3 separate regions of the Homo sapiens genome follow, and regions 1 and 3 are each linked to region 2. The links come from fine-mapping of genetic effects on gene expression. A gene starts in region 2. Each other region holds a variant in brackets. All regions are shown on one strand. Distances are from middle to middle.

Region 1 (10,337 bases), 44 kb after region 2:
TGGCAGTATATTTATTTACATGGAAGAGATTTACAATATATTAGGCAGAATACAAAACATCTTATGAAGACATTGGTGTAGGTATATATGCGTGTGTATCTATTTGGGAAAATGTGCAACAAATTAACTGTGATTATCCCTGGGTGGCAAGATTATGTATGTCTTGTCATCCTTTATTTCACATATAAAGCTCTATTTCTAGTTTTTCTACAGAGATCATGGATTCTTTGAGAGGAAGTAAAACATAACAGTTAAAGCAGTTGAGAGGGTTGAACTCAGTCTGGCTGGGTTTAAATCCCAGTTCTATCACTTACTAGCTGTGTAATCCTTAGCTAGTCACTTTATTCTGTGTTGTTCTAATCTGTAAAGTAGGGATAATCATAATAGAAATTAATAATACCTACCCCATAGAGTTGTGAGGATTAAACATATTTAATACATATGAACTCTTTAGAACAGCTCATGCTACTATATTAATGTTAGACTTTATTATTTTTGTAATAAAAGTAGCACATGCAAGAGAAACAGACACACTAGCATACCTGGAATCTACTGGTAGAGGAAATGGTCTCAAGCGATTGAAATGATTTGGTAAATTTTAAAGAGGAATGTGATGACTGGATGTTTACTTTTTTCTTTACAATTTCTAAATTTTAAATTTAAAAATTATTAAGGCTAAATTCATTTAACATAAAATTAATCATTTAAAAGTGAAAACTCAGTGGCATTTAGGATATGTATAAAGTGTGCATTGTAACACTCCAAAACATCTCCATAATTCCAAAGTAAAACCCTGTAACCATAAGGCAGTTTCCATTCTCTCCTCCCTGCAGCTCCTGGCAACCACTAATCTGCATTTTATGTGATTTATCTATTCTGGACGTTACATATAAATGTAATTCTGGAATATGTTACCTTCTGAGCCTGGCTTTTTTGACAATATAGTATTTTAGAGGTTTATCCACATTATAGTAATATCAGTACTTTACTCCTATGTCTGAAAAATATTTCATTTTATGTATATACTACACTTTGTTTTACATTCATCCATTGATGGTCACTTGGGTCCTTTTCACCTTTTGGCTGTTGTGAAGAGTGCTGCTATGAACAGATGTTTGCTTTTATTAATAATAGTTTCTTCTGATATCAAAGCTGTATATTTAAGATAGAAAATTTAGAAAATACAGAATTACAATTACTTCAAATTTATGTTTTGCTGTGGTACTTTCAGTCTTTTAAAATATGCACACATATACATATGTGTGTATGTAAGTGCATATATATGTATTAAAACCCATAGCTGTGTACAAAAATATACTTAAAAGAGCAATTGGGATGATGGTACACATTGTTTTCTTGCACTGTTTACTGTTTAACATTTCTGAACACTTTCTGATGTGTTATAAGAAAATATTGGTATAACATAATTTTAAATGAAAAACTAAAAATATTGTATATGCTATATTGGTATAAAATAATTTTTAATGAAAAACTAAAAATATGTTATATTGGTGTAACATAATTTTGAATGAACAGAATTTATTTTACCAATATCAAGTGATAAAAGTTTAGCTTTTGACTTCTATATTAAGTGCAATGAATATCCCTTTATATAGAATACTACTTAATTATTTTCTAGGGATAGAGTCCTGGGAATAGAAATGTTTTGTCAATAAGTGTGTACTTTTAAGGCTTTTGACACACTGCCAAATTTCCCTATGGAAATGTTATACTGATTTACATACTACCAGCAATATTTGAGTGTCTGTTTCTTCTTCTGATTGCCAATATACTTTTATTCATAATCACTGTTACTTTAACAAAAATAGTGTCCAGTTCATATTTTAAAATTTCTATTTATATAAAACATTACCAGATACTGTTTTCTTCCTTTTGTGAATGCCTGCTTAATGACTTTTAGTGAGTTTTGTCTTTTTCCTAATGACCAGAAGAGATTTTTGAAAAATATAATGGGCTGGGCATCGTGGCTCATTCCTTTAATCCCAGCATTCTAGGAGGCTGAGGTGGGCAGACCGCTTGAGCCCAGGAGTTCAAGACCAGCCTAGGCAACATCTGAAATGAGGTCTCTACAAAAAATACAAAAACTTAAATTGGTGTAGTAGCATATGCCTGTGGTCCCAGCTACTCAGGAGGGCAAGGCAGGAAGATGGCTTAAGCCTGGGAGGTTGAGGCTGTAGTGAGCTGCGATTGTGCTACAATACTCCAGCCTGGGTGACAGGGCAAAACCGTGTCTCAAAAATAAATAAACAAAAATACAAAAATACAATGAAGATGTAAATCTTGACAATCTGTTAGAAATATATTTTTTTCTATGTTGCTGTTTGTCTTATTTTATCTATGGTATTTTGGTCACAGAGAAGTTAAATGTCTTAACGAAGTGATCTCTGTCATTTTTTGCTTTTTTCTAGAAGTTTCTGCCTTGCTCACATGTTTTTCCAAGTCTCCCTTAGGTGATTGGTGTATATGTTTGATAATGAGCAAAACATTCTAATATTGTCTTGTTTGAACATGGAATACTGCTTGTCTTAGTATTTATTTTGCTACATAACTTTCTCCAGTGACTTATAAAAAAACTACAGTTAACTCAAGGCTACTAGTACACTAAGTTTAGGATCTGAATTTGAACCGTAAGCTCAGAGACAGACACATATCACAAGAAAACAAGTGCATGTCTGGGATTTATTCAGGGAACCCATTTCCACAATATATGCTTGAGTCCAAACTCATTCATGTAGTTTCTCTCTGTATTTGTCTGTGTCCACAGCTTTATAACTTGCATTGAACTTTCGGGCACTAAGATCCTCATTCATCAAATAAGTATTAAATTTTGTTCATCATACTCCATTTACCTACAGGAAATTGAACCTGTTCATTTTTGGGTGAAATTGTTTTTACCTTTTGAAAATCATCTAGCTAGAATGCCTCATTTCTTAGACAATCCAAATCATTTGCCTTTATTATAAATAGGCAAAATATTCCTACATGTCAGGGAAATAAGTTATATGAATTGATACTAACCTATGTGAGTATCTAGCATTTTTTCTCTCATTAAATATAGAATTAGAAGTGACTTTTCTGGCCGGGCGTGGTGGCTCGCGCCTGTAATCACAGCACTTTGGGATGACTAGGCGGGTAGATCACGAGGTCAGGAGTTCGAGAACAGCCTGGCCAAGATGGTGAAATCCTGTCTCTACTAAAAATACAAAAATTAGCTGGGCATGGTGGCGGGCGCCTGTAATCTCAGCTACTTGGGAGGCTGAGGCAGGAGAATCGTTTAAACCTGGGAGGCAGAGGTTGCAGTGAGCTGAGATTGCGCCACTGTACTGGGCCTGGCACCAACCTGGGCGACAGAGCAAGACTCTGTCTCAAAAAAAACAAAAACAAAAGAAGTGACTTTTCTGCCAGTGTGAAATGGAACTTCTGTTTACTTTAGGCTGATGATGTTAATGACAATTATTAATCTTTATCTGCTTTTATTTTATTTTATTTTATTTTTTGAGACAGTCTCACTCTGTCACCCAGGCTGGAATGAGGTGGTGAGATCCTGGGTCGCTGCAACCTCTGCCTCCCAGACTCAAGTGATCCTCCCACCTCAGCCTTCTGAGTAGCTGGGACTACAGGTACACACCATTATGCCCGGCTAATTTTTGTATTTTTTGGAGAGACGAAGTCTTGCCATGTTGTCCAGGCTGGTCACAAACTCCTGAGCTCAAGTGTTCTGCCCACCTAAGCCTCCCAAAGTGTTGGGATTACAGGCACGAGCCACCACGCTCAGCCTATTTTTGTGTTTTACTTCTGATAGATCTTTTAAACAAACAAACAAACAAAAATATGTGTTTATTATAAAAGAAATTAGGAAATATAAGCAAACCAAGCATTCTGAGTACTCTTAATACCTTAGCATATATTCATTCCCCTTTCATATGTATGCATTCATTCGCATTTAATAAAAATTCATTTTTATACTCATCTATTATGAGCATTTTTCCAAGTCAGGGGCAGATGTATACAATTTGAAATAAGTACAGAATTCCACTGTGTGGATATATCAAAATATATTTCAGCAGTTCCCCATCGTTGATCATTTAGACTGTTTTCTACTTCTTGCCATTACAGTTCATAATAAACAATGTGATAGTAAAATCTTTGCTGTATTTAGATATTTATTTTTAGATATTTCCTTGGATAAATTCCCCCAAAATGGAGTGTATCTAATTTTTGAATCTTACAAGTTTTTGGAGAGAGAAATGAGATTGCCAGGAATGTAAAAGCTGAGGATTGGATGTCTTTTCAAATTTAATACATAAAATCAAATACAAATTTCGTCTTCAACATTATGGCATTTATCTTTTTTTCTTTTTCTGTGATAATTCATCTTCCTCTCTAATTTATTTTTCCAACTGTGGAAAATGAATGTAAGAGAATGAGTAGGATAGGAATCTAAAAGACTTGTTTTCTATCTTTATTCTTGTTGGAAAGTTGGGTTTTGGTTACTTTTTGAAGACAGGTTTTTGGAAAGGAGATTTCTTTTATTTGATCATGCTTAGTCTGTTGTTTTGACATTTAGAGAACTTTTTACTTTGGGTGCTGCTGTTTGCTGATGATGACTCACCTTGTTATCAACTTTTACCTTTTCCTTTTCCATGGACATTCAGAACCCACGTTGTGTAGTTACTGGGCGAGATTACAGGTATAGAGAGAAGATTGGTTCATTACAGTTATGTTATATTATATATTATATATATATATAATAGTTACTATACTCCGTATAGTTACGGAACTGGATGTGGCAAATACTTCAGTATGGTCAGTTCTTACATCATTGATAAAAGCAATTGCAACATTACCTGTAAATTTTTGGGGCATTGCTCTTTTCTCCTGTGATTTCTACCCATCTTGTACCCATCCTCTTACTGCTGCATTATTTCCAGTGCTTTAATTAAGAGCACTGGAAATGGACTGTTAACTGACACCCTACTTTAAGAAAATTTGTTGTGTAAAGAGCCCAATCTGAAATATGAAATACAGGAATATTCATTATCATTAGAAAATATATATATATTTTTTGAGATGGAGTCTTGTCCATCCCTATTTCTACCCATCCCCTTACTTGTAAATCCTAAAACTTTCTAACCTAGAGCTTTATATTTTATCAGCAATGAATAATCTCATTCTGAAAACAGAGATACATTTTGAGTCTAAAATATCCCTATACACATAAACACTAACATACAGAACAGTTTCATTTATAAAAGTCTTTGAGAAATGATGACCCATTTCTCTGTCTTGAAGATTAAGAATTTTCTGTTTGCTTTCAAGTATTTAGATTTGTTTGTCTCAGGTTTCAGTTTCACAGGAATCACTAAGCACAGAAAAGGACACAACACTAATTTAGGGAAGACTTGAGAGTGTGAAGGTAATCACACCTTTAGAAAGAGATTTGTTACCTGGAAAGGAAACTGCTGCATTACTTCCAGTGCTTTAATTAAGAAACTGGCCTGTTAACTGACAACCTACTTTAAGAAAATTTGTTGTGTAAAGAGCCCAATCTGAAATATGAAATACAGGAATATCATTATCATTAGAAAAACATATATATTTTTTGCTCTGTCACCCAGGCTGGAGTGCAGTGGCGTGATCTTGGCTCACTGCAACCTCTGCCTCCTGAGTAGCTGGGAGCAGTTGGGAGTAGCTGGGAGTAGCTGGTTCAAGCAATTCTCGTGCCTCAGCCTCCCGAGTAGCTGGGACTACAGGTGCCCGCCACCATGCCCAAGTAATGTTTTGTATTTTTAGTAGAGGCAGGGTTTCACCATGTTGGCTAGGCTGGTCTCGAGCTCCTGGCCTCATGTGATCCACCTGCCTTGGCTCCCAAAGTGCTGGAATTACAGCTGTGAACCACCATGTCTGGCCAGATTTTTCATCTTTGAAGGACTTAAAACAGAAAGCCTTTTAGTAAAAAGGTTTTATAATTTTTGTTAGTGAGGAATTAAAAATAGTTTATATTTGCTGAATAAATTTTAGGCAGGAGAGTAGGAAAGAGCTAGGATTAAAATTGGTGTCAGATAATGTCTAAAGCCAATAACTTATTTTTGTGTCCAATAAGAAACGACCTTTAGACAGTGTTGCAGTTCACAACAGATTTATCAGCTTTGTTTTTGGTCTTATATTTTGATAGAGAATATTGATAAAGATTGTTTTGATAAAATATTAAAATTAAAAGGCACTTTTTGAATATAGTGCAAAAATATTTGCAAAAAATTAAAGACAGACTTTGTAATATTCTAAATGGTTATTTCTTGTGAATATAAATCTGTCATTCTATTAGCATGTGCAAATTTATTTATTATATGGTGATAATTTATAGTCATAGCAGTTGCTTTTTTTTTCCTGCAGCGCACCACTTCTTTTTTTTTCTACCAGCTTTACTGGTATGAAATCAATAAAGATATAATTATATATGAAAACTGCACATCTTTAATGT[A/G]TACAATTTGATGTGTTTGGACAAATGCATACACCTGTGAAACCATCATAACAATCATAATAATAAACATATTTACTATTGCCAAAAACTTCCTCCCATAGCAGTTGTTTTTTGAAGTGAATTGAACAATATTTCATTTTTATGGAGTGTTTTAGTGTGTTCTTGTGTAATTATATTACAGGAATCAAGAGCTCTCTATAGTGGGTAAGAGAAAAATTTTGCAAATTTCTTATGTTAAATTGTTGATTGTATAAATCAAAATTTAAATTTTAAAATATGCACTCATATTTGCTTCACTTAATCTGGCAAAATTGGTTTTTAGTTATTTCTTTAAGCGTCACATTTTTTGTGACTCACATTGTGATTGTGTTTATTGATAGAGTGGATGTGGTGTTGACATAGGTGTTCTTGAAATTCTGTGTGTAAACCCGTGTTTGGCCATTACATTCTGCTTCGTATTATAGCTTCATCTTCACAAAATCCAGTATTACTAAGTAATTGTCTGGAAATGTCACTTTTATAAGCACTGAAGCTTTTACCATAAATAGTTAATTCTTATTATTCATAGTAGTTATGATCTGTGAAGTTGCCATGAAGACTGAATTAGCCAATACTGAACAATTGGTCCTAGAAAAAAATACAAGAGCCTCTGGTCTTATTTTTGTCAGCAGATTGAAATATAATGTTGTTTTACATGTGTTTCCATTTTAAGAGATCTTATTTAATCTATGTTGTTGATTCATTAATGTTGAACTCACAGCCAACAGCACCGTAACTCATACATGAAGGAAGCTTGCCTAACATGTATTTTCTCTGTAAGGAACATCAAAGCCTTCTAGGAACTCTAGACAGTACAATGTTCTGGGACCATTTTAAAGCAACATAAAGCAAAAAAAAAAAAAAAAAAGTGAAAAACATGGCACGAAATATACTGGGAAAAGGACACTCAGTGACAGTATGGGAGCTGAAACAAGAAGGCAGAGCATCACCTGTTGGTCTCAGCTGGGAATGTGTGTGTCAGGTGACTCCAATATTTCACTGCACTGTGCATGTTCACACATAACTAGGAAATTACTGAGTATTGATTTTGTGGTGATAAGTAAATTTTAGCAAGTAAAATTTGCAAATATGGAATCACCAATAATAAGTCTCGACTGGCTGGTTTTTGAGGGAAATTTTTCTATTTAATAAAATGAAATAAAATTGAACATAAGTTAATTTGATGATGTAAGCTAATCATTGTGGAGATGCTTATGAAGGGAATCCAACATTTACTGAGAGTCTGTCATTGCTGTTCCTGGTGTGTTTGACTCTACATCAGTGTCCCTTATAATTCACCATAATCTTCTTCACCACCTGCTCCTTCCTCACTCCATCCCTGCTGGTACTTCTCAATGTGGCAACTTTTAGGTATCTAACACTCACCTCACCCTGTCTTGCTTGCCTAATCTGCTGTCTCATGTTACCTAAGAAAACCCTGGGCATTTTAAAAATAATCAGAAAACAAGCTCATTATATGATTAAGAATAGCTTTTTGATATGAGTTAAACTCAAGTTTAGTATGAGGGACTTGAATACATTGTCTTTATGACAGTATTTTCCCTTCTGATTTTAGGGTATTTGTTAACATTTTTTACCCCGATGTATGTATGAGATGATTTATAGTGCTAGAGCTTTTGCCACTAGATCACTGGGAACGATTGAGCAAGCTTGGGTTAATATCTTGAGCTTCATTCTCTTCTATTGAAATTGAATATAAACTGTGATATAAAGTAGACCCTTCTTGGCCATTTTTGCATATATTCTTGTGGTATATTATCTTCATTTTGTAAGATTGGAGACTGAGGTCTGGAAACACAAGATAAATATCTTAGAGTAATAGCAGAAATGATGAGGAAGTTTGCAAAGTGCTTCTTTGTGTTCTATTTGATGGCTTGTTACTGCAATAGCATGATTTTGTGCTTTATTTCCAACCTATTTGGGCCAGCTTTAACATTTTTTATGGTCAATTTTTTAGAGGATTTTCTAGTCATTAAATTTCTTGGATTTTAGAATAGTGCTTTGCTGGTCACACAGCAGTGGCAGGCTGTGTGAACTTTCTTCTCTTCTAGAACAGTTGCAGATTTAAAGCTACCTTCTGCCAAAGGACCCATGGAAGATATGACTTTTGTTATACTTTGTTCATTCAAGTTGGAATGTTCTTTTAAGCCCTGCTAACATGAGATTAACTCCTATTTTATTTTTGTTGCAATGAAAGTATCTGTTCAGATACTTTCTGAAAAGTACCGAACAGAGTACTGAACAAAGTACTTCTAAAAAGTATGTGAACAGAAAGTACAGATACTTTGTGTACAGACATCTGTTGTGTAATGCCTGTCCTAAATGCAAAAATGATCCCTAGCTTAGGAGAGATATGATATAATTGAATAAAAACATACTGACTGAATGTAGAAAGAGTAGAACTAGACTAATACTGTGGTTAGTAGCCATTTGTGGATATTGACTACTTTTTTTTAATTTCTTTTTGAGAAGGAGTCTCACTCTGTCACCAGGCTAGAGTGTCATGGCACAATCTCGGCTCACTGCAACCTCCACCTCCTGGGTTCAAGCAATTCTCCTGGCTCAGCCTCCCGAGTAGCTGGGACTACAGGCATGCGCCACCATGCCCAGCTAATTTTTGTATTTTTAGTAGAGACAGGGTTTCACCATGTTGGCCAGGATGGTCTCAATCTCCTGACCTTGTGATCTGCCCACCTTGGCCTCCCGAAGTGCTGGGATTACAGGTGTGAGCCACCACGCCCGGCCAGATATTGACCACTTTAAATGTGGCTATTTCAAATTGAAGTGTGCTATATGTGTAAAATACACATTGGATTTAGATTATTTAGTACAATAAAAGAATGTAGTTTCTCATTAATATTTTTATATTGTTACTGTTCAAATGGTATCAAGTTAAAATATATTATTAAAATTAATTTTACCTGTTTTTAAAATCATTTTAATGTGACTACTAGAAAACTTAAAATTACACATGTGACTTGCATTTATAGCTTATATTTCTATTCAGAAGTATATAATATATAGCTGGTACAGATGTTATGCTGAATATTTAAAACATATAGACCCTGTCTTTTGTTTCTGTCATCTTTCTTCCCCTCCTATAAATATACCTTTAATATTGTTAGAAAGTAAAGAAATATGAAAAGCTTATTCAATGATCAACTCCCTAGTGACCCACCAACACATTTCTCATTATAGGTGGTTGTTATGTGCTTCTGTGAAAGCTCCCAAGACACCAAGTTGGTAAAAGCTGGATAAACAAGGCTGTATTTTTTATACAACAATGTTAAGCCAGTTGGCAATTTTGTGAACTCACTGAAACGGAAAAATTGTACTGAGTATTTGTATTAAAAAGAGTTATAAATATCTGCAATTATTACTCAAGTATGAATTATTTTAAAGTTTGTTACTATCAATAAGAACCGAATATTACCAGAGCATTCAGTAGTATTAGGAGTTTTAAAAAGCTGGATGCTATTTTCAGGTATACAGACATGGATTCAGTCTAGGAAAGGTTCTCTCCTTTATTACTTTGTTTAATGCAGCATGAAGTCAATTGTTCATTTGCAAACATGTTTTGTGGTGGTGTATTTTCTTTTTCTTTTCTTTTTTTTTTTTTTTTTTTGAGATGGAGTCTCGCTCTGTCGCCATGCATCTTGGCTCACTGCAACCTCCACTTCCCGTGTTCAAGCGATTCTCCTGCCTCAGCCTCCCGAGTAGCTGGGACTACAGGCACGTGCCACCATGCCCAGCTAATTTTTTTGTATTTTTAGTG
Region 2 (10,337 bases):
AATACAGACTACCATCAGAGAATACTACAAACACCTCTATGCAAATAAACTAGAAAATCTAGAAGAAATGGATAAATTCCTCGACACATACACTCTCCCAAGACTAAACCAGGAAGAAGTTGAATCTCTGAATAGACCAATAACAGGATCTGAAATTGTGGCAATAATCAATAGCTTACCAACGAAAAAGAGTCCAGGACCAGATGGATTCACAGCCGAATTCTACCAGAGGTACAAGCAGGAACTGGTACCATTCCTTCTGAAACTATTCCAATCAACAGAAAAAGAGGGAATCCTCCCTAACTCATTTTATGAGGCCAGCATCATCCTGATACCAAAGCTGGGCAGAGACACAACCAAAAAAGAGAATTTTAGACCAATATCCTTGATGAACATTGATGCAAAAATCCTCAATAAAATACTGGCAAACTGAATCCAGCAGCACATCAAAAAGCTTATCCACCATGATCAAGTGGGCTTCATCCCTGGGATGCAAGGCTGGTTCAATATACGCAAATCAATAAATGTAATCCAGCATATAAACAGAACCAAAGACAAAAACCACATGATTATCTCAATAGATGCAGAAAAGGCCTTTGACAAAATTCAACAACGCTTCATGCTAAAAACTCTCAATAAATTAGGTATTGATGGGGCGTATTTCAAAATAATAAGACCTATCTATGACAAACCCACAGCCAATATCATACTGAATGGGCAAAAACTGGAAGCATTCCCTTTGAAAACTGGCACAAGACAGGGATGCCCTCTCTCACCACTCCTATTCAACATAGTGCTGGAAGTTCTGGCCAAGGCAATTAGGCAGGAGAAGGAAATAAAGGGTATTCAATTAGGAAAAGAGGAAGTCAAATTGTCCCTGTTTGCAGACGACATGATTGTATATCTAGAAAACCCCATTGTCTCAGCCCAAAATCTCCTTAAGCTGATAAGCAACTTCAGCAAAGTCTCAGGATACAAAATCAATGTACAAAACTCACAGGCATTCTTATACACCAATAACAGACAAACAGAGAGCCAAATCATGAGTGAACTACCATTCACAGTTGCTTCAAAGAGAATAAAATACCTAGGAATCCAACTTACAAGGGATGTGAAGGACCTCTTCAAGGAGAACTACAAACCACTGCTCAATGAAATAAAAGAGGATACAAACAAATGGAAGAACGTTCCATGCTCATGGGTAGGAAGAATCAATATCGTGAAAATGGCCATACTGCCCAAGGTAATTTATAGATTCAATGCCATCCCCATCAAGCTACCAATGACTTTCTTCACAGAATTGGGAAAAACTACTTTAAAGTTCATATGGAACCGAAAAAGAGCCCACATCGCCAAGTCAATCCTAAGACAAAAGAACAAAGCTGGAGGCATCACGCTACCTGACTTCAAACTATACTACAAGGCTACAGTAACCAAAACAGCATGGTACTGGTACCAAAACACAGATATAGATCAATGGAACAGAACAGAGCCCTCAGAAATAACGCTGCATATCTACAACTATCTGATCTTTGACAAACCTGAGAAAAACAAGCAATGGGGAAAAGGATTCCCTATTTAATAAATGGTGCTGGGAAAACTGGCTAGCCATACGTAGAAAGCTGAAACTGGATCCCTTCCTTACATCTTATACACAAATTAATTCAAGATGGATTAAAGACTTAAACATTAGACCTAAAACCATAAAAACCCTAGAAGAAAACCTAGGCATTACCATTCAGGACATAGGCATGGGCAAGGACTTCATGTCTAAAACACCAAAAGCAATGGCAACAAAAGACAAAATTGACAAATGGGATCTAATTAAACTAAACAGCTTCCGCACAGCAAAAGAAACTACCATCAGAGTGAACAGGCAACCTACAAAATGGGAGAAAATTTTTGCAACCTACTCATCTGACAAAGGGCTAATATCCGGAATCTACAATGAACTCAAACAAATTTACAAGAAAAAAACAAACAACCCCATCAAAAAGTGGGCGAAGGACATGAACAGACACTTCTCAAAAGAACACATTTATGCAGCCAAAAAACACATGAAAAAATGCTCACCATCACTGGCCATCAGAGAAATGCAAATCAAAACCACAATGAGATACCATCTCACACCAGTTAGAATGGCAATCATTAAAAAGTCAGGAAACAACAGGTGCTGGAGAGGATGTGGAGAAATAGGAACACTTTTACACTGTTGGTGGGACTGTAAACTAGTTCAACCATTGTGGAAGTCAGTGTGGCGATTCCTCAGGGATCTAGAACTAGAAATACCATTTGACCCAGTCATCCCATTACTGGGTATATACCCAAAGGACTATAAATCATGCTGCTATAAAGACACATGCACACGTATGTTTATTGCGGCATTATTGACAATAGCAAAGACTTGGAACCAACCCAAATGCCCAACAATGATAGACTGGATTAAGAAAATGTGGCACATATACACCATGGAATACTATGCAGCCATAAAAAATGATGAGTTCATGTCCTTTGTAGGGACATGGATGAAATTGCAAATCATCATTCTCAGTAAACTATTGCAAGAACAAAAAACCAAACACCGCATATTCTCACTCATAGGTGGGAATTGAACAATGAGAACACATGGACACAGGAAGGGGAACATCACACTCTGGGGCCTGTTGTGGGGTGGGGGGAGGGGGGAGGGATAGCACTGGGAGATATACCTAATGCTAGATGACGAGTTAGTGGGTGCAGCACACCAGCATGGCACATGTATACATATGTAACTAAACTGCACATTGTGCACATGTACCCTAAAACTTAAAGTATAATAATAAAAATAAAAATAAAAATAAAATAAATAAAAATTGGGGTTATTTATACCACAATCTGATTTAAGTTAAAAAAGAAAATAAATCTATTTATATAGCATCATTTTGGCTATGGCTTTTGTTGATACAGCTAAGGCTTTTGTTGACTTTTTAACAAAATTCAGTTCAATTTTCAGGTATACACTGCACAAATAAAGTGGAAAAATGATTATTACCTAGTGATTGTAAGCTATTTCAACCCATTCTTGCAAAAATTTCATTATGAATTTTCTATTAAAGTATATTTTTATAAAACTATCTTTAAGAGTAAATTTATTGATCAGATAATCACAAACTTTGAATAATTTGCTATTACATCCTAAAATAACAGGTAGAAGAGGACCTTAGAGTCTTCTTGAAATTTCCTTTCTCTGTCAGCCTTTATGCTGATTTTAATTATCCAAGGTCAAGATCTTTTTTATGGATGGGACAACTATGAGAAAAGTATTTATTGAAAGTGGCAAGTTGTCCTACTCTGGAAAATCTACAATTGTCATTTGATCCAAGTGCATTGACTGGACGACTCTTATTTTTATAAGGAAAGAAGCTGTTTTCAATTTAATAGTCATGTTGTTAGTTCTTTCTCAGATGACAAAAATCATAACATAATTTGACTCCTAAAAATTCCACATGAATTAAAGAATAAAGCATATAAAAAGGAAATAATAACAAAATATAACAAAATAAGAAAACATAGGCATCTGTATGATTTTGCAGAGATACGTGTACTTCTAGATATAAAAAAGGAAGAAATCACAAAAGAAAATGTTGCTACATTTGAATACCTAAAGATGACAAGCTTCTGCCAGAAAAGCTATCAGAAGTAAATTTAAAAGACTACAAAAAAGTATTTGTAAGATATATGATAAACATACACAAAGCTTATGAAGATTGCTAACGAATCAATAAAAAATGGAACTTCAATAAAATGGCTAAAGTGTGCCAGTGAAAAATTCTCACACCCTGACATGAGAAGGAAAAATGCAAATAGCTAGTAGATATATATAAAAAATCACTCGATGTCACCAATGATAAAAATACATTTTAAAAATAATAGCTTTTGTCTCTTCTACCAAAATGATAAATATCTGAAGTATTATAATCTAGGGTGATGTGAAATAAATACTCATAAACTGCTGGTAACAATTGCTACAAATTTTTTGGAAGGAATTTGTACACTATTCGTCAAAAACTTTAAAAATACACATATCATGTGATCCAATGTTTTCACTTCTAGAAAGTTATCATAAAATATTTAAAGATGCACACAGATTATGTTCCAAGGGCATTCTTTCCAGAATTATTAATAACACTGAATCCTTAAACAATGCCTAATATCTAATAGTAAATTACATGTATCTAAAGAGTAGAAAATATTTTACAATTATTAAAGTTGTGTTGTTGGAGACTTTAATGACTTGAGAAAATATTTATGTTATTAAGAATAAAAATAAAAGCAGGTTACAAATTATTATTCCAGTTTTGCAGTACACACAGAGTTAAAAAAAAAAAAGCAAGGAAATTCCTCAACATGTTAATACCATTAACAATGTTATCTCTGGGTGGTAGGATCTCTAGTTATTTTTATATTCTTCCTGATACTTTTCAATATTTTCCAAAATGTTTACAAATAACATATATTGTTATAATCAGAATATAGGTGTGATACACAAATCTATATGTGTATACATACACACAAACACACATATACAGAGACTTTCATGTGGAAATTTTGTTAAAAGGATATTAGAGATAATGCCACAAACAAATGTGCCACAGGCCAACTTATAATGAGTGGGCCACGTGGATTTGTCCAGATATTCAATAATCAGAAATTTGGATGCTTCTTTTGAAAAACACAATAACTCACCCATTTACAGAATCTGAGATCAAGAAGGGATCTTGAGATCCTTGCCACTGAGGAAGGCCTTATGTCCATCTTGTTCACCATCACCTAGTTCAGTATGTTTTTGAATGAAAGAAAAAACGAAGAGCACCTCAATCATCGCACAGATGGAGAAACTGTTTCCTCCAGAAAACACAGGGCTTAATGCCCAATGTTACACATCTCCACAAAATAACACCAATAGCAGCAATAATTATGGCTACTACTACCAACACATGTCACCTACTGTGTGCCAGGCACTCTTCCAAGTGCTTTATGTACATCAACTTACTTAATCCTCATAATAATCCTACGTGGTGGGTATTATTTTCATTAAATAGGTGAGAAAACTGAGTCACACACCACGTCTACACCTCAGTCCTCTTTCTTCCCCGCCATTTCATGCACACCCTAACTAGAAATTCGATCTGACGCTAGCCAGCATGGATCCTTACAAGGGATGTTCCGAGGGCACATCTGCGTGTTTGTGTGCAATGAGGAAAGTGGCGAGCTTTTTAAAGACCCACCGCCAGAAAACAATGTCCTGATGTCCTGTATTTACTCTGGCTTCATCCCGGGAGCGCCCCTCCCAGTGGGCCACGGGGACCTGAGACAGGCTACTCCACGGGGTCCCCAGCCTCTCTCGCCCTCTAGCGCGAGGCGAGCGCCGCGCAGCCCCTGGGGACCCGCCGGGCTGGGCCGCAGCCCCCGCCCGCGCCACCTGCTCCCCAGCTCCAGCGTCCCCGCCCCGCGTCCCGCCCCCGCGCCGCGCCCGCGCCCCGCGGTCCCTCCCTCCGGCGTGACGGGAGCATCGGCGCTGGCTGCCCGGGCCGCGAGCGCAGCAGAGCTGTCAGCGGGCGGACGGGCAGCGGGTGACGGAGCGGCGAGACGAGCGCACAGCAGTCGCGGCCCGGGAGCCGGAGCTGCCGCCGCACCCCGGGAAGGCTGCCTTGCCGCCGGCCCGCCGACCGCGGCCGGACGAAGATGCTGTTCCGCGCCCGGGGGCCGGTACGGGGCAGGGGCTGGGGGCGGCCGGCGGAGGCTCCCCGCCGCGGGCGCTCGCCGCCCTGGAGCCCCGCCTGGATTTGCTGCTGGGCGCTCGCCGGCTGCCAGGCGGCCTGGGCTGGGGACCTGCCCTCCTCCTCCAGCCGCCCGCTTCCTCCTTGCCAGGAGGTGAGCAGCACCTGGTCCTCTACCTGGAGTTTGCTGGGGGAGGGCGCGGAAGATGAAGGCTGAGAGCGGTTCCTGTTTATTTCTGTTTGCCATCCCCTTTTCCTTTGCTTGGAGAACAGGGGCTTTCGTTTGCTTCGAGGGGTGAAGTTGCCCGCCCTGGTAGCTGGCCCGGAGAGGGTGTGTGGCTTCGCTGTCTCTCGGGGGATGCTTTTCTGTCCGCGCTTGTGTCTTTTGGGGGCTCTGCAGGACTTTGCGGCGTCCTTTTTGGACAGCCAGGTTTGAGGACCTGGGGTCGAGGGAAAGATTTCAGGAAGGGGAGGAGACTGGGGAAGCCCCACCAGTGGGATTTGAAGAACCATCTCATCACAGCTTTTCCAGAGAGCCAGACACAGACACCAGAGGATTTCCCGCTCCTCCTCCCCCTGTCTCCACTCCCCTGTCTCTGCAAACGCCTTCGTCCTACTCCCCTGCCCTCAGCTTCCTGATTAAGGCCCTGTGGGTTTGCTAAGCCAATGTATGGTGTCACTTAGCATCCTTCTGACAAAATGTGGATTTGAATTTGGGGGGGAAAAAAAAGGAGTATGTACTTGGTAGAGAAGATGCAGGTTGATGATGGAGAAAATTAGAAAAGACAGTGAATATGCTTCTTTTGGGAGGTGCTTTATCACCTGGCTGAAGTATTGCCGCGGTGTATTTTATAGCTTGTAATCATTGTTGTTTTACAGCCAAAAAGGATAAACTATGGGAGATGAGATTTTTATCTGGCTTTTAGAAGAACGAGACAGTGTGCCAAAAATTTACAGGGGGTGTCATTGGTTCTTGTATTGGGTGTTTATCTTTCCATTTAGTGTTCAGAAAGTGCATCCTCTTAATGAAAATCAATGAGGGGAAGGAAGCAACATTTCTGACCTACTTTGATTGTGTTGGGAGGATATATGGAATAGATACTGTTTTTAGGAAGATTGTTAGGAATCAGGGCGATGGGTCGTTTTAATTAATGTAGCAAAAATAGGTTAGCCAATAGCCCCTCTGGGAAGAAAGGCCAGACCCTCTTGTTTGTGTATGTTGCTCTAACTTCTGAATTTTACCGAGACTTGAATTACAGAGTATCTGTGTTCTACACATCATCCATCATCTATGGATTTTCGTCTTTCTCTCCTACAGTACAGGTCCCAGGACAGACTGAAATGAAAGAGAATCGGATCAAAGGCTTGTGTGCGAACACACAGCAATGTTGTAATTGGGGAAATCAGGGCAAGAGCTCAACAAACAGCTGTGTTTAATTTTAGGGCTTTTTAGTATAATGAGCTTAATCTATATTCTACAACTTTACATATCACCTGGGAATAATCCATTATTCCAGGTTTCCACAGAAAGCTGCTTCTTGGACATCTCAGATTGAACAGTTGTGACAAGATAAACTTTATCCTCCAGCCCCCAACTTCTAATATGCAGAATATATTTTTCTAAACTGAAAAGTCTTAAGCTTCTGATAACATCGATTCTTAGTAATGAAAATCTGCTTGAAGTAGGCGAAGGTCAGGGTCAATAGAAGTGATGCCTTTGGTCTCTACAACTAGACTAATCTTTTAGATGAACACATGTCCTACACATGTATACCTAGAAAGAAGAGTCTGCAACCTAAAACAAAGATTGAAAGGAGGGGCAGAGAGATGACAGAAGGTTCAGGAAGGCTGGGTTCACTTGATCACAGGTCCTTACTGCATTGGCTTTAGAAATTGCATGTGACTCATCCGTTGAGATCTGAAATTTACATTTTCCTTCTGAAAAATGAGAATAAATAAAATATATAGGAGGACGCTATTGAGCCTGCCTTTGGCTGTATGTTTTTATAAATGTTAATGCACAGATCCATTTATGTTCTTCCTGATGACTGACAAGTAAGAGGAACTAATGGGAGTTAGAAGTTCTTGGAAGTAGAAGAGGCCTAGTGACCTCCCAGGGGTTGAATCTGTTTGATATCTGGTCTAACCAGTGGAGCTAATTTACAGAATTGGTCATTGTTTTTCTCTGACATTGTTTTTAAGAGGAAAGTGGGGAGGGCAAGTTATTTTCAGACTTTGAAGGTAAAGGAATGTTTGTGCTGGGAGTGGGGAAAGGGTATCCTCTTGAGCTCAGCCCTTTCCTCTGAATACAGTTATGGGATTGTGGGCTAAACGCCTGTGAATAAAGACACAGTTAAAGTAACTACTCTGTGTTCACTCCTGCTCGTTTATCATTTTCCACTTTTTGTTAACATTAAAGGAGGCAAATGCCACAAAGGACAGACTATGCAGTGGGGAACAGAGTGAGGGCAGTTAAAGTGAGGAATTTTCAGGCTGAGAGCTAAAACCAACTCTCAATGTGAGAGAATGTTGAGGAGTATAGAAAAAGCTATAGGCCATTTTGAACCTCATTTCCCCCCAGTAGTTTGTGTCACCCTCATTTATTAATATTTTTGTAGAAGTAGTCATGTTTAACAAAGTTACATAAACTCTGATTTTCCTGCCTGGTTTTAGAGGAAAGCAACTAAAGGAAGACAAATGCAGAGAACTGGCCTGGGAGTCATCCAGTTATAATTGCCTGAGTTCAGAAAAAAGGCCCTTCAAAAACTAGGTTATGGGTAAAAGTTACATTTAGATTTTTGCAGAGGAATGGACTCTGGGGTGAAACTCATAAAATACATATTCCTTTGTCAAAGTCTTTGGATTATGAAGTCGAAAGGGGGAGAAAAGTTATTGTGTTGGAATGTTCAGCTGGTGATCAGATCAGCAGTGTGGAAGCACACGCACAAACAGGAAGCGATCATTTGGGAGACAGAAATAAAAGGAAAGTCAAAGTGCTGGCAGATGAAGCACAAGAATAGGATGTGACTTTGGAAAATGGTATTCAAAGGAAATAAATGAGGCCTGGACATCAGAAAGTATAGAATTCCTCAGGTTTTTGTATGGGGTGAACTTATAAAAGGTAAATCTTCTTTGGGTTTCTTGGCCTGTGTTTCACTTATAAAATGTTATTAATGAAACATGACCAATTATTTGTATTATGAGGATGAAATGAGATTAATATAAGATAAAGGAGAAATATAAATATGAGGGCTGATTATTGCTAGATTAGTAGAGCTAGATCCTGATATTTTGGGAAGAGTCTACAGTGAGACTCCAGAGGTTCCTAGGATAGGCCCATCCAAGACTTGGCATGACATTTTTGACTCAGTGAATAATAGGACTTAATGGGGCTGCCAGAGCAAAAAAATATAAAGGCCAACAGATAATTCAGAGTTGCAGTAAGGTATCAGAAGATAGAAAAGTACATGAGAGTAAAAAGAACAGAACTAATTGGATTATGTCTGTATTATTTACATTTGGTAAATTAAATCACAAAATAGCTGATTCTTAGTTCACTGCTGTAAAATCTTGCATAATGCAATTCTGCTGTTCTCCCTGACTACTGAATGATGAGTTTTGCTAACAGTTTTTGTTCCACATTCAGTTTATACCATGTGCTAGACAAAATGTCAGATATGAAATTAGTAATTTAAAGAATATAATTTAATTGGATAAGGATGAGACAGATATGTAAACAAACATTGCAGTTAAGTGATTTGAAGCCATGAAAGAAGCAATGGGCCATCATATCTACTGAGGGGGGTGGGATCAGAAAAGGCCCTATGGAGGAAGTGAATGAGACTTAATTGATAAGTAGGAATTTGCCAAGCAGACAAGGGTCAGATGTGAGTGTAGGCTAGTTTGGGGGAAAGACATTTCAGGTGAAGAGCACAGATTGAAAAAGGGCAGAAACATGAAACAGCATTGTATTGTAATTGGTTCTAACTGAAGTACAGCATGCAATGAGAAGCTTAATGAGAGATGAATCTGACAGGCAGGCAGGAGCCTATCATAAGGGACCTTATATCACACTAAGAAGCTGGTCTTCATTTGGTAGGCAATAGGATGCAGTAGTAGGACTTCAAAAAGAGGAGTAGTATGCTTTAGATAGAATTGGCAGTGAGTGGATGCAGAGGGTGAGAGAATGAAATGTTCTAACTTGATTAGAGGATGGTGCCTCTTAACCTCCCTGAGAAGAAATGTGAAGAAGATGGGATAAGGAGCTTGTTCTGTCTGGAAGGAGTGACTTTATGTAGAGCTGTTGAGTAGGCAGTTAGGTATTATTAGGCCCTGTTCCTCAGGGGCATGGTGTGGGCTGGTGTGGTGACCTGGGAATAACTTGAATGGAAGACATTGTTGAAATGACTGGATTGGTTGAGATCATGCAGGGAGTGAGAACAAAGTGCTGAAGATAGGACTTGGGTTTTACCTACATGAAAGGGGACAGAAACCGAGGAGTTCACAAAGGAGACATGTAGCAATGGCTGGTAAAGAAGAAATGTGAGTGTGGAGTTGTGGGAAAAAGAAAAGCCTTTG
Region 3 (10,337 bases), 26 kb after region 2:
CATTTCTGCAGTATCAGTTGTAATGTCTTCTTTTTCATTTCTGATTTTATTTATTTGTATCTTCTTTTTTTCTTAGTCTAGCTAAAGTTTTGTCAATTTTGTTTAACTTTTCAAAAAACTAACTTTTTGTTTCATTGATCGTTTGTATTTTCTTCATTTCATTTATTTCTGTGATTTTTATTATTTTCTATTAATTTTGGGTTTGGTTTGCTCTTGCTTTTCTGGTTCATTAAGATACATCATTAGATTGTTTATTTAAAGTTTTTTTTCTTTTTTGATGTAGACACTTATAGCTATAAACTTCCCTCTTAATACTGCTTTTGTTGTATCCCATAAGTTTTGGTATGTTGTGTTTCCATTACCATTTGTTTCAAGGAATTTTTCAATTTTCTTCTCAATTTCTTCATTGACCCACTGGTCATTCAGGAGCATATTGTTTAATTTTCATGTATTTGTATAGTTTCCAAAATTGCTCTTATTATTAATTTCTAGTTTTATTCCACTGTGGCCAGAGAAGCTGCTTGATATTGTTTCAGTCTTTTGAATGTATTAAGACTTATTTTGTGACCTAACATGTGCATTTCTTTAATCACTCATGAAGGTCAATATTTTTCGTGTCACTTAGCTTTTTGTATTTCACTTTTTGTGAGATTTCCTATTTAGGTGTTTGCATCGTTATGTATACAAGCTTTTAGTATAATAAGGATAATATATATTTCCCTAGACTTTTTCTTATCTGTGTGTTTTGAGATATGTAATATCCAGAGAAAGCAATTATTTAGTCCCTAAAAAGGTATATGGAATTACCTCCCTTAACATATCAAACTGTAATACATCTTAATTTCCAAAAAGAATGTTTGGTACATAATACCTTATTAAATCATTACAATATATGAAGGCTTTCAGGTGTTTGAGAAAAATATGGAAGCAGCTACAAAGTGACCAAGAATTCTTGCACTTGGATTGGTATTCTTGGTTCTAAGAGTGTGTTTTAGATATTTCATGACTATTCATTCTCTGTTACTTCTTTTTCAGTTGCCATTCATATGTTTATTAGCTCATCTAGCATGTATCTCACAGGAAAAAATTATAGGATAGTCTATGATGATAGTACAGATGGGTTAAGTGCTGTGATGGAGTCATTCACAGGGCTGTATAGAAGCACAGAGAAGAGGCAACTAAATCAGACTAAAGAAACTCTGGTGTCAGAGCAAGTGATGTTTCAGCTGAGTTTGGAAGGATTTATAGTAGTGCTTTACAGGATGCACAGAGACCACCACATCTCAGTCAAAGAAAATAACATGTATAACATCAAAGAGGAATTAAATAATATTATAATTTCAAGGGCCAACTTGAAGGGCACGTGGGTGGTGGTGGCAGAAGTGTCAGAGACTGAAGGTCTTGCGAGGCAAGCTATGAAGCGCTATTAACATCAAATTAGAAAGATTATTCTGTTGGCAAATGAAGGAACATAAAAGGGAAATCACATTGGACGCAGGAAGATCAGTTAGGAGACTCTTGCCTCTCTCACGGGGAGAAAATAACTAACAGAACTAAACACATGACAGTATGAATGGAGAGGGAGAGAATAGATGGATTTTACAGCTATTAAAGACATCTTATTTTCAGGAGTCTGCAACCGAGTGATACATTTCAGTCTACCATGACTTATAAGTTTTTGGTCTGAGTAGATGCTGCTGTCTTTTATTGAGATAAAAAAATTGAGAGAAGGAAAAGGAGGAGGTGGTGGTGGGGGCGGGAAATAGGATGAGTTCAGCATTGGACATCCTGAGTTTATAGTACCCTGGGCACACACAAACAGTGCTCTCCTGAAGACAGGTGGATGTACAGGAGTGCAGCTGAGAGACAACTTGGGAGCCATGAGTACATAAGAGGTAATTGAAGCCATTGATGTTGATGAGGTCACTTAGGCTCTGAGCATATAGCAAGAGCACTGTGTTGAGGAGAGTGCTTAGGGAAACAACAGCATTTAAGAAGCAAGCAGAGTGAGAAGCATTTGAGGATGAAACTGAGAAGGTACAGCCAGTAGAGAAGGATTAGCATTAGCACAGAAGCAGACTGGAGGTTGATGGGAAGGAGACCCGTAAATCTGGAGTATGATATAGGCAGGGTGATTTTTAATATTCAGGGTGTTTTCTTATTTTAATTTTTCAACTTTTAGATTGGGGTACATTTGTACGTTTGTTATCTGGGCATATTGTATGATGCTGAGGTTTGGGATATGAATGATCCCATCACCCAGGTACTGACCATAGTACCCAACAGTTTTTCAACCCTTGCCCCTGCTTTTCCCTTTCCTTTCTAATAGTCTGTAGTGTCTATTGTTGCCATCTTTAATTCCATGAGTACCCAATGTTTAGCTGCCATTTATAAGTAAGAACATACGGTATTTGGTTTTCTGTTCCAGTGTTACTTTGCTTAGGAAAATAGCCTCCAGCTACATCCATGTTTATGCAAAATACATGATTTTGTTGTTTTTTATGGCTCTATAGTATTCCATGGGGTATATGTACCACATTTTCTTTATCTAATCCACCAATGATGGTCACCTAGCTTGCTTCCATGACTTTGCTATTGTGAATAGTTCAGCAAACCCTTTTTAAAGATAGGGTCTCCTTGTCACTCAGGCTGGAGTGCAGTGGTACAATAACAGCTCACATAGTTTTGACCTCCCAGAGCTCCAGTGATCCTCCAACCTCAGCCTCCCGAGTAGTTGGGACTACAGGCACATGCTTCCATGCCTTGCTAATTTTTGTATTATTATTATTATTTTGTATAGACAGGGTTTCACCCTGTTGCCCAGGCTGGTCTTGAACTCCTGGTCTCAAGTAATCATCCCACCTCAGCCTCCCAAAGTACTGGGATTGCAGGTGTGAGGCACCATGCTTGGCCTACAGTGAGACATTTGAATTGTCATATCATTATTGACAAAATGCATAGTATATGATGAATGACGGAATATTAGGCAGATTCCTGGCTATTTGAACAAATGTATACTAAGATTATTAATGTATGTGATGCTAAACTGAAAGAACATCTCCAATGCAATACTTTTGTGCTTAATATCTAATTTCTGTCCTTTTACTGTTTTACTATTACCATTTTAAATAATACTTGGGTTTTGAGACGGCATAACCAAATTTTGTAAAGTCAGAAAGCTGAGAAGGATTCCTAATGAGTTGGAAAACAGAATTGGGATTCAAAATGATTTCAAAAGGCTAGAATAATGGGCAATCCAACATAATTGATTTAAATGTAGACTGTTCTTTTCTGGTTCTGAAAATCAGATGTTCAAGCATAGAATGGGAAAATTTTACTTAAAAGTACTTCTGAAGCCATAGCTGTCATATGGCTGCAAAAGCAATGATGGAGGGTCTTGAGTTCTGTTTATATGAGAAGAATGCCTTGTTTGTGGAAGGTAGACATTTATATTAGGTCATTAGTTCAACTTAGATGCAATATTTGAAGAGGGATATTGACAAAGGGTGACATTGGCTTGAGATGTGAATTAGGAAGATTAGTTATTTGGAAAGTACGTCACGGGAAACTAACCAAAGGAAATGGGGTTGTTTAGCTTAGAGTAGACTTGAGGGGGCCATGACATGAGCTTCAAATATATTAAGTGCAGTCATAATGCTATAATTGCTATAATGCTCATTTAGAGGACAAGATTTGGATTAGCGGGTAGTAGACAAAAGGATGCAGAATTTAGTTCATCTTAGAAGGTGTTTTACATATGCAGAAGCCATGAGCTTTGTCTTTATACTCTGAAAATTGCAGAGCTGCTTCTTTGGATGGATTGCAAACCTAGGTTCCATGTGTAGGAGCCATGAGTTCTAATTTACTGAACTTTGACAATTTCACTATGCTGGATTTAAGGGGCAGTTCAATGACTGCTCAGGGGTATATCCATACCTACTGTAACTGGTGAGAAGATAAATATTTGACCTTGATGCATTAGTCGTAGCTAGCACACAATTTTTTTTTTTTTTTTTTGAGACGGAGTTTCACTCTTTTTTGTCCAGGCTGGAGTGTAGTGGTGCTATCTTGGCTCACTGGAACCTCTGCCTCCCTGCTTCAAGCTTCAAACAATTCTGCCTCAGCCTCCTGAGTAGCTGGGATTACAGGCACA[C/T]GCCACCATGTCCGGCTAATTTTGTATTTTTAGTAGAGACGGGGTTTCACCATGTTGGCCAGGTTGGTCTCGAATTCCTGACCTTAGGTGATCCAGCCGCCTTGGCCTCCCAAAGTGCTTGGATTACAGTCGTGAGCCACTGCGCCTGGCCACACACATTCTTATTCTGTCTTACTTAGCACTTTATTCTAAGAATGCTACAGTGTAAAAACACAGTGCCCTTTGGTGTTTAACCCTACCTCCTAACGTTAAGAGCAGAAAGAACTGACCCTTGAAAATGTAATGCAGACTTCTACTTGATAATTCTTAGGCATATAAATAATGCATAGCAGGAAATAACTTGAACCAAAATAATAATTGATGCTTAAACATATCTGAGCCTGTTATGCTAGGAAAGTGCTTCCCTATCTAAAGAGCAGATAAATATTAAGATCATTTACTTGAGGTTTTTTTTTAATGATCTCATTTTTTTCTACATTTGTCACCTTTTAAAGTTAAAAGCAATATATGCATTCCAGAAAAATGCAGCAATAAAAACACCCATAATCTCACTAAATAAGCATGCCACTTTTAACATCTTAGTATTTGTAATATGAATAATAAATAATAACAATAGCCAGGTAAAATTTTAAGTGCATTTTTATTTATTAACTCACTCATCTCCCTAACTCTAATTGGTAAGCTTGAACCGCCGCATCTTCTCCCCATGTTTAAGTTACTTGTGAATCCAAGCTGCTACACCAGGGCCCATACTTTTCACCATCAGACTATACTGCCTCTATTACATATATCAAAAGTCCTTTGCATGTATTTCATTATCAGTGTACACATATGGTTACAAAATGGTAATATTATGTACATATAGTTTGGTAATGTTTTTTGGCATTTAAAAATATGACATGAACTTACTCCCCTATTTTGATTCCTCAAGAATTTTATTAAGTACTTGATATGTCTCTGACTTTGTTCCCTGAATAACCAGTTTTTACAAATAGTGTTTTGAACAATCCATAATTCATCCTTTTTCTGTTGGTCTGTTTTCTATACCATCTATTGTGTATGTGGATATATAAAAATTTATAAGCTATTGTTTTATATATAATATGTGCTATATTATATATATGCACATTTATTCAATTTCTTTTGAGCTATTTTCTACACTATTGATTTTTTTTGTACAGATTGCAGAGTTTTATAATATAGTTTTATATGGTGGCACTTAATTTTCTTTCATTCTCAGCTGTTCTCACTTATTTAGTCTTTCAGTTCAACTTCAGAATAATTTTGAAAAGTTAAAAATTTTTTTTGGATTCTCTTAAGTTCGCCCATTTATTTGGAAAAAATGTCATATTTTTAGTATTATCTTCACATTTAAAGACATACAGTCTGTTTTAGCATTTATTGAGGCATTCTGTATTTCTCACTAGCACAATCTTTGTATTCTGAACTATTTTATGTTACTATTTTCCATGACATTTTTCTGCCAACCACTTTACCTTTTAATTGATTTTTCCCTGATATGTTGAAAAGCCACTGGTTTTTAGAAATTAATTGTGTATCTAGTTTCTTACAGGGCTGTCTTATTAATTCTAACGTTTTGTCAGTTAATTATCTTCGATTTTTTTGATAACAAGTTCCATTTATTGAGTAGTTAATGTGTGAAACACTTTTCTCACAGAAGTCCATGCCTCTGCTTTCAGAGATGAAGAAACTGAAGCTCAAAGGCAATTAATAACTTACAAAAGATGACAAAGCTAGTGAGCCATAAAGCTGGGATAGATTTGTCTCCAGAGAGCTCACTTTCCACTGAACTCCACTACCTCCCACTCTGCCTACACAGAACTGATCTATTATGCTTACAGCTCTCCATGACTGATTCTTAGAGGCTATTGATCGAATCTTATTAGGTGTACCAGGCAGCTATTTACAGTTTTTCCCAGTAGCCAATCATTTTCACATGATTTCTTTTTTTCAAGGTAGAGATCCTTTTCTCATGTGTTTCAGAAATCTTTCGTCTCCTCCAAGGTAGATGTTAATTCCACATTTTCACAAGGAAAGCTTTATGTACTGCTGTGTTTTACTCACACACAAGGTGTGTAGGTAGCCACTGGTCCTCCTGTCTTGATAGCATGTCTGTGCAGAGTTCCTAGTCCAGTTTCTGTTGTCTGAGAAACTTCCTTTTTATGCTATGCTGATGAACTTTGAGGATCTCATTCTGTCTATTAGATTCTCGATTAGGAGAATGTTTTAAAGAAACAGAGCTGTCTGTGGTTCTTCTATGTGAAGAAGCACATGATAGGTACTGGACCTAGGGCATTTTCTGCCTCTGTTTTTATCTGTACATTTCTGGGAGTGAAGGATGTACGTGAAGAGGTGAGAGTGAGATTTGTTAGTCTGATGTCATCTTAAACCAGAAATCTGTAAAACTTCAAAAACAGATGGCCTTTTTCTGTTGTTGGAAAACTATATTCCAAAGAAAATTCAGAATAAAAATTGATGGACAAATTGATGTGTAATTCTGTCATTTTACATCTTTTTGTTTTTGTTCTCTTCCTTACACCTCTTTCTTTTAAGACTTATCAGTTAATATGGCTCAGGCATTGCTGTAAGTGTTTTACAGATATTAGCCCACTTAATAGCAATCATTTGTTATTAGTTCATTCATCATTCATAAGCAAATGATGCTGCTTTAAAGTGATATTCAGACATTTTATATAGAAGTTAAATCATTGCCTCAATCTTTAAACAAATCTTTATGGAAGCTTAATTGAAGTGCACTCAGATACATATATTTGAAGTATATAAATTGATCAGTTTTGACATATGTAAGCACTCATGAAACTATTGTCATAATCAAGATAGTCATTTTCAACATCCCCAAAAGTTTCCTGTTTCTCTTTGTAATCTAACCCTTCCTCCACTCTGTCCCTAGGCAGCCACTGATCTGCTGTCACTACAGATTCAGTTGCATTTTATAGAATTTTAGATAAGTGGAATTGTATGGCATGTACTCTTTTTTGGGTGGGGGGCTGTCTTCTTTCACTTAGCATAATGATTTTTGAGGTTTATTCACATTGTGGTGTGTATCAAGTTTGTTCCTTTCTGCTGAGTAGTAGTCTACTATATGGCTATACACAATTTGTTATTTAATATACCTATTTTTAACATAATATAGTTGTAATCATAGCACTTGATATTCTTAAGCTCCAATAAGATAATGTAATCTATGATCATTAAATACTAACTAGTGAGTACTCCAGTAAGTTCTTTATAAAATTTAGCCGCAGCAGTCTAAACATGTAAGTGTAAGTACTAAAGGATTTTTGGCATTCTGAGATATTCCTGTAGGTGATTCTTTGTTTCATTCAGTATTTAACGCTGTTCTGATAAATCTTGATTTTTGGAGCTAACCATTCAGTTAGTCTATTAGATGTGCCTGCTGTTAGAACTATTAATATTTTCACTTACTTGCCTGTCTGTAGATCATTTAACTATCAATTAATGAATGCATGTCTCTGGGAGTGCAGGTGAGAAATGTGGATCTCATGCCACTCATTCAGAGGCTAAAATGAGGACTTTGTTTAGTTCATGGTAATGAGCATTGACATACTGTATGGAAATGAAAACAGTCTTTGTGTGTGTTCAGTTGGATGAACAATTAAATATATTCATTCCTAATTGAAATTATGTTTCTATTGTTAAAGAAAAACTGAGAGGAGTTAAATTTAACATTTGAGCAAGAAAAAAGTTCTAGAACCAGACAGCATTCCTGATGAAGGTGGTGATATGGTTTTTCTGTGTCCCCACCCAAATCCCATCTTGAATTGTAGCTCCCATAATTCCCACATGTTGTGGGAGGGACCAGGTGGGAGATAATTGAATCATGGGGGTGGTTTCCCCATACTGTTCTCGTGGTAGTGAATAAGTCTCATGCGATCTGATGGTTTTATAAGGGGAAACCCCTTTCACTTGACTCTCATTCTCTCTTGTCTGCCACCATGTAAAATGTGCCTTTCATCTTCCACCATGATTGTGAGGCCTCCCCAGCCATGTGGAACTGTGAGTCCATTAAACCTCTTTTTCTTTATAAATTACCCAGTCTTGGGTATGTCTTCATCAACACCATGGGGTAACAGAGTACCCCCACCTACAAACCTGGTGGACTATATAACGAGAAAATAAGAAATGACATACAGAGAGTACTTGATTGGTACAGCTGGCATGTACCTTCTTTGGGTGTAATCTGGCAGCTTTCAGCCTCTGGTTGTCTGCAGCTACTGTGATTTGAGACTCAGCTACTTGTTATAAGGGTTTACTTTTCATGAAATTACAGTCTGTTTACACAAGTTAGGTTATAGTTCATAATGTATGGAGAAACCATTATGCCAAACTCAAAATATGTACGGTGGCAGCTTTAGGCCAAACTTAATTCAGTTTAATGCCATAAATCACAAATCCATCAAGATAGCTAGGTTTAGTTGTATTTTTTCTTTTTCTTTCTTTCTTTTTTTTTCTTTTGGTGGGAGCTGATGAGAATTCTGTTGACTAACATGTTTGCATTTAGAACAAGATAAGCATTCTTTTAGACTAATAGTGTTTTTGCAAGTTTTGAGGACGCTTATGTTTTTCTTATATTGTTCCAGGAAGAGAAAAGGTATTGGTATGTACTGTGACTGACTGACATGTCCCATTTAGGCTTATCTCGTCTTAGAATCCATCTTTTGTAGCAGTAGGTGATCACCCTAACAGGACAGGGAGAATAAATGTGACTTACTTGGCATCATAGTAGTGAGTTCTGCACTCTCTATGACAGAGGCAGGCTAATCCTTAACCTGAAATTTTCAGCTATGGCTTTGTTTTCCTGATCTCTTCAAAATCAGATTGTTTACCTTTATTTCCTCAATTCTCTTTCCAATTCACTAGAGTCAGGCTTTTATCCCACTTATTTTCCTGAATCTCTTGTCATGGTTAGTAATCATCTAATTATTAGTGGTGTCTTTAATCCTCATCCTATTCCATCTGAGGCATTTGACTCTACTTCCAGGCTTCTGCTTTCTTATACTGTAATGTTGTGTCACTCATTGTTATGTCCTTATTTCTTTAGCTACTCTTCTATGACCTCTTTGTAAATCTCGATTGCCCCAGGTTTTTGCTTTTTGTCTTTTTGCATTGTAGATATCCTGTCTGAGTGATCTTATCCATATTTCTTTCATTATTTTTCTGTAAACATGCTTATTATAAACCATTTGAATAATTTGAACAAGCAAGAATGAAAATCACCTGCCATAACACCTATGGAAAACCATTGTTACATTATTTACATTACTTATCCAACTGCTTGTCTTACCTACAACCTTTGTTTAAATGACTCTAAAATCCAACCTCCATTGCATAGTTTTCCATCAAGTTCCAAAATAATATTTATGGCTCCTTAAATTATAAAAAGAATTGCGAAAAAGCACAATCCTTTCTTTAAGGAACTCATAGTCCAGTGAAGTAGCTCTCAATCTGGCTGCAAGTTAGAATCACAGACCAAAAATTTATTTCCAATTTAGGGATCTGAGGACAGGGTCCAGGAGCCAGATGCCAGTGCATAGCCAGGGTTAAGAATCCCTTGTGTAATGGCTATATTTCAAAGTGCCATTTATTTAATATCTACTCTATGCCAGGCCATGTGGTATCCATTTGTTCTTTCAACAAATATTTTTTCAGCCCTTCTTTTATGTTTACCCCTGGCCTAGTTACCGGGAACACATCAGAGAACAAAAAGAGAGTTTCCATTCTTATGGAGATTATGAAATGGTAAAAAGAGATAGACATTATACAAATACATGAGAAGTGGTGATAAATGTAGGAAGAAAAATAAGGGAGCTGAGGGTATAGGGATGTGTGTCTATCTAAAAAGTCAGAAAAGGGCTTTGGATGTTACAGCATTTGAATAATGCCTGAGTGAAGAGGAGACATCTGGGGAAGGATCTTCCAGAAAGAGGGAATAACAAATGCAAATGCAAAAACCCTAAAATGATCATGCACTTTAAGTGTTCAGAGGAGAGTGACCCCCTGTGGCTTGAGCAGAGTGAGAGGGACGTGGCAGGAATTGAGACCACAGGGGTCATGTGGGTGGAGTGTGGCTGATCACATGGTGCCTTTTAGGGTGTGTGAAAGACTTTGCCTTTTATTCTGA

Alleles and levels. Positions count from the first base shown, and alleles are read on the strand shown. Sizes are in standard deviations (SD) of each study's normalised expression. Not every link is listed here.
As copies of T replace C in region 3, the expression in skeletal muscle of the gene that starts at base 5,584 in region 2 goes up (moderate effect, 0.56 SD a copy in GTEx).

Evidence for each region. PIP is the estimated chance that this variant, and not a neighbour inherited with it, causes the effect.
Region 1: its variant is fine-mapped to the expression of ELAPOR2 in whole blood (TOPMed, PIP above 0.99).
Region 3: its variant is fine-mapped to the expression of ELAPOR2 in skeletal muscle (GTEx, PIP above 0.99).

What each region holds. Positions count from the first base shown.
Region 1 is chr7:87,011,100-87,021,436 of GRCh38, reverse strand. The region is part of intron 1 of ELAPOR2 (endosome-lysosome associated apoptosis and autophagy regulator family member 2); the gene reads left to right. Among named protein-coding and RNA genes, the nearest start is that of ELAPOR2, 43 kb to the left of the region's middle. RefSeq lists a silencer at 1-17. The variant A/G (reference allele first, on the strand shown) is at 6,503.
Region 2 is chr7:87,054,901-87,065,237 of GRCh38, reverse strand. ELAPOR2 (endosome-lysosome associated apoptosis and autophagy regulator family member 2) reads left to right here and starts at 5,584. Exons shown (of 22, transcript NM_001142749.3): 1 at 5,584-5,913. The coding sequence starts at 5,725. RefSeq lists silencers at 5,307-5,696, 5,787-5,856 and an enhancer at 6,122-6,622.
Region 3 is chr7:87,028,768-87,039,104 of GRCh38, reverse strand. The region is part of intron 1 of ELAPOR2 (endosome-lysosome associated apoptosis and autophagy regulator family member 2); the gene reads left to right. Among named protein-coding and RNA genes, the nearest start is that of ELAPOR2, 26 kb to the left of the region's middle. The variant C/T (reference allele first, on the strand shown) is at 4,154.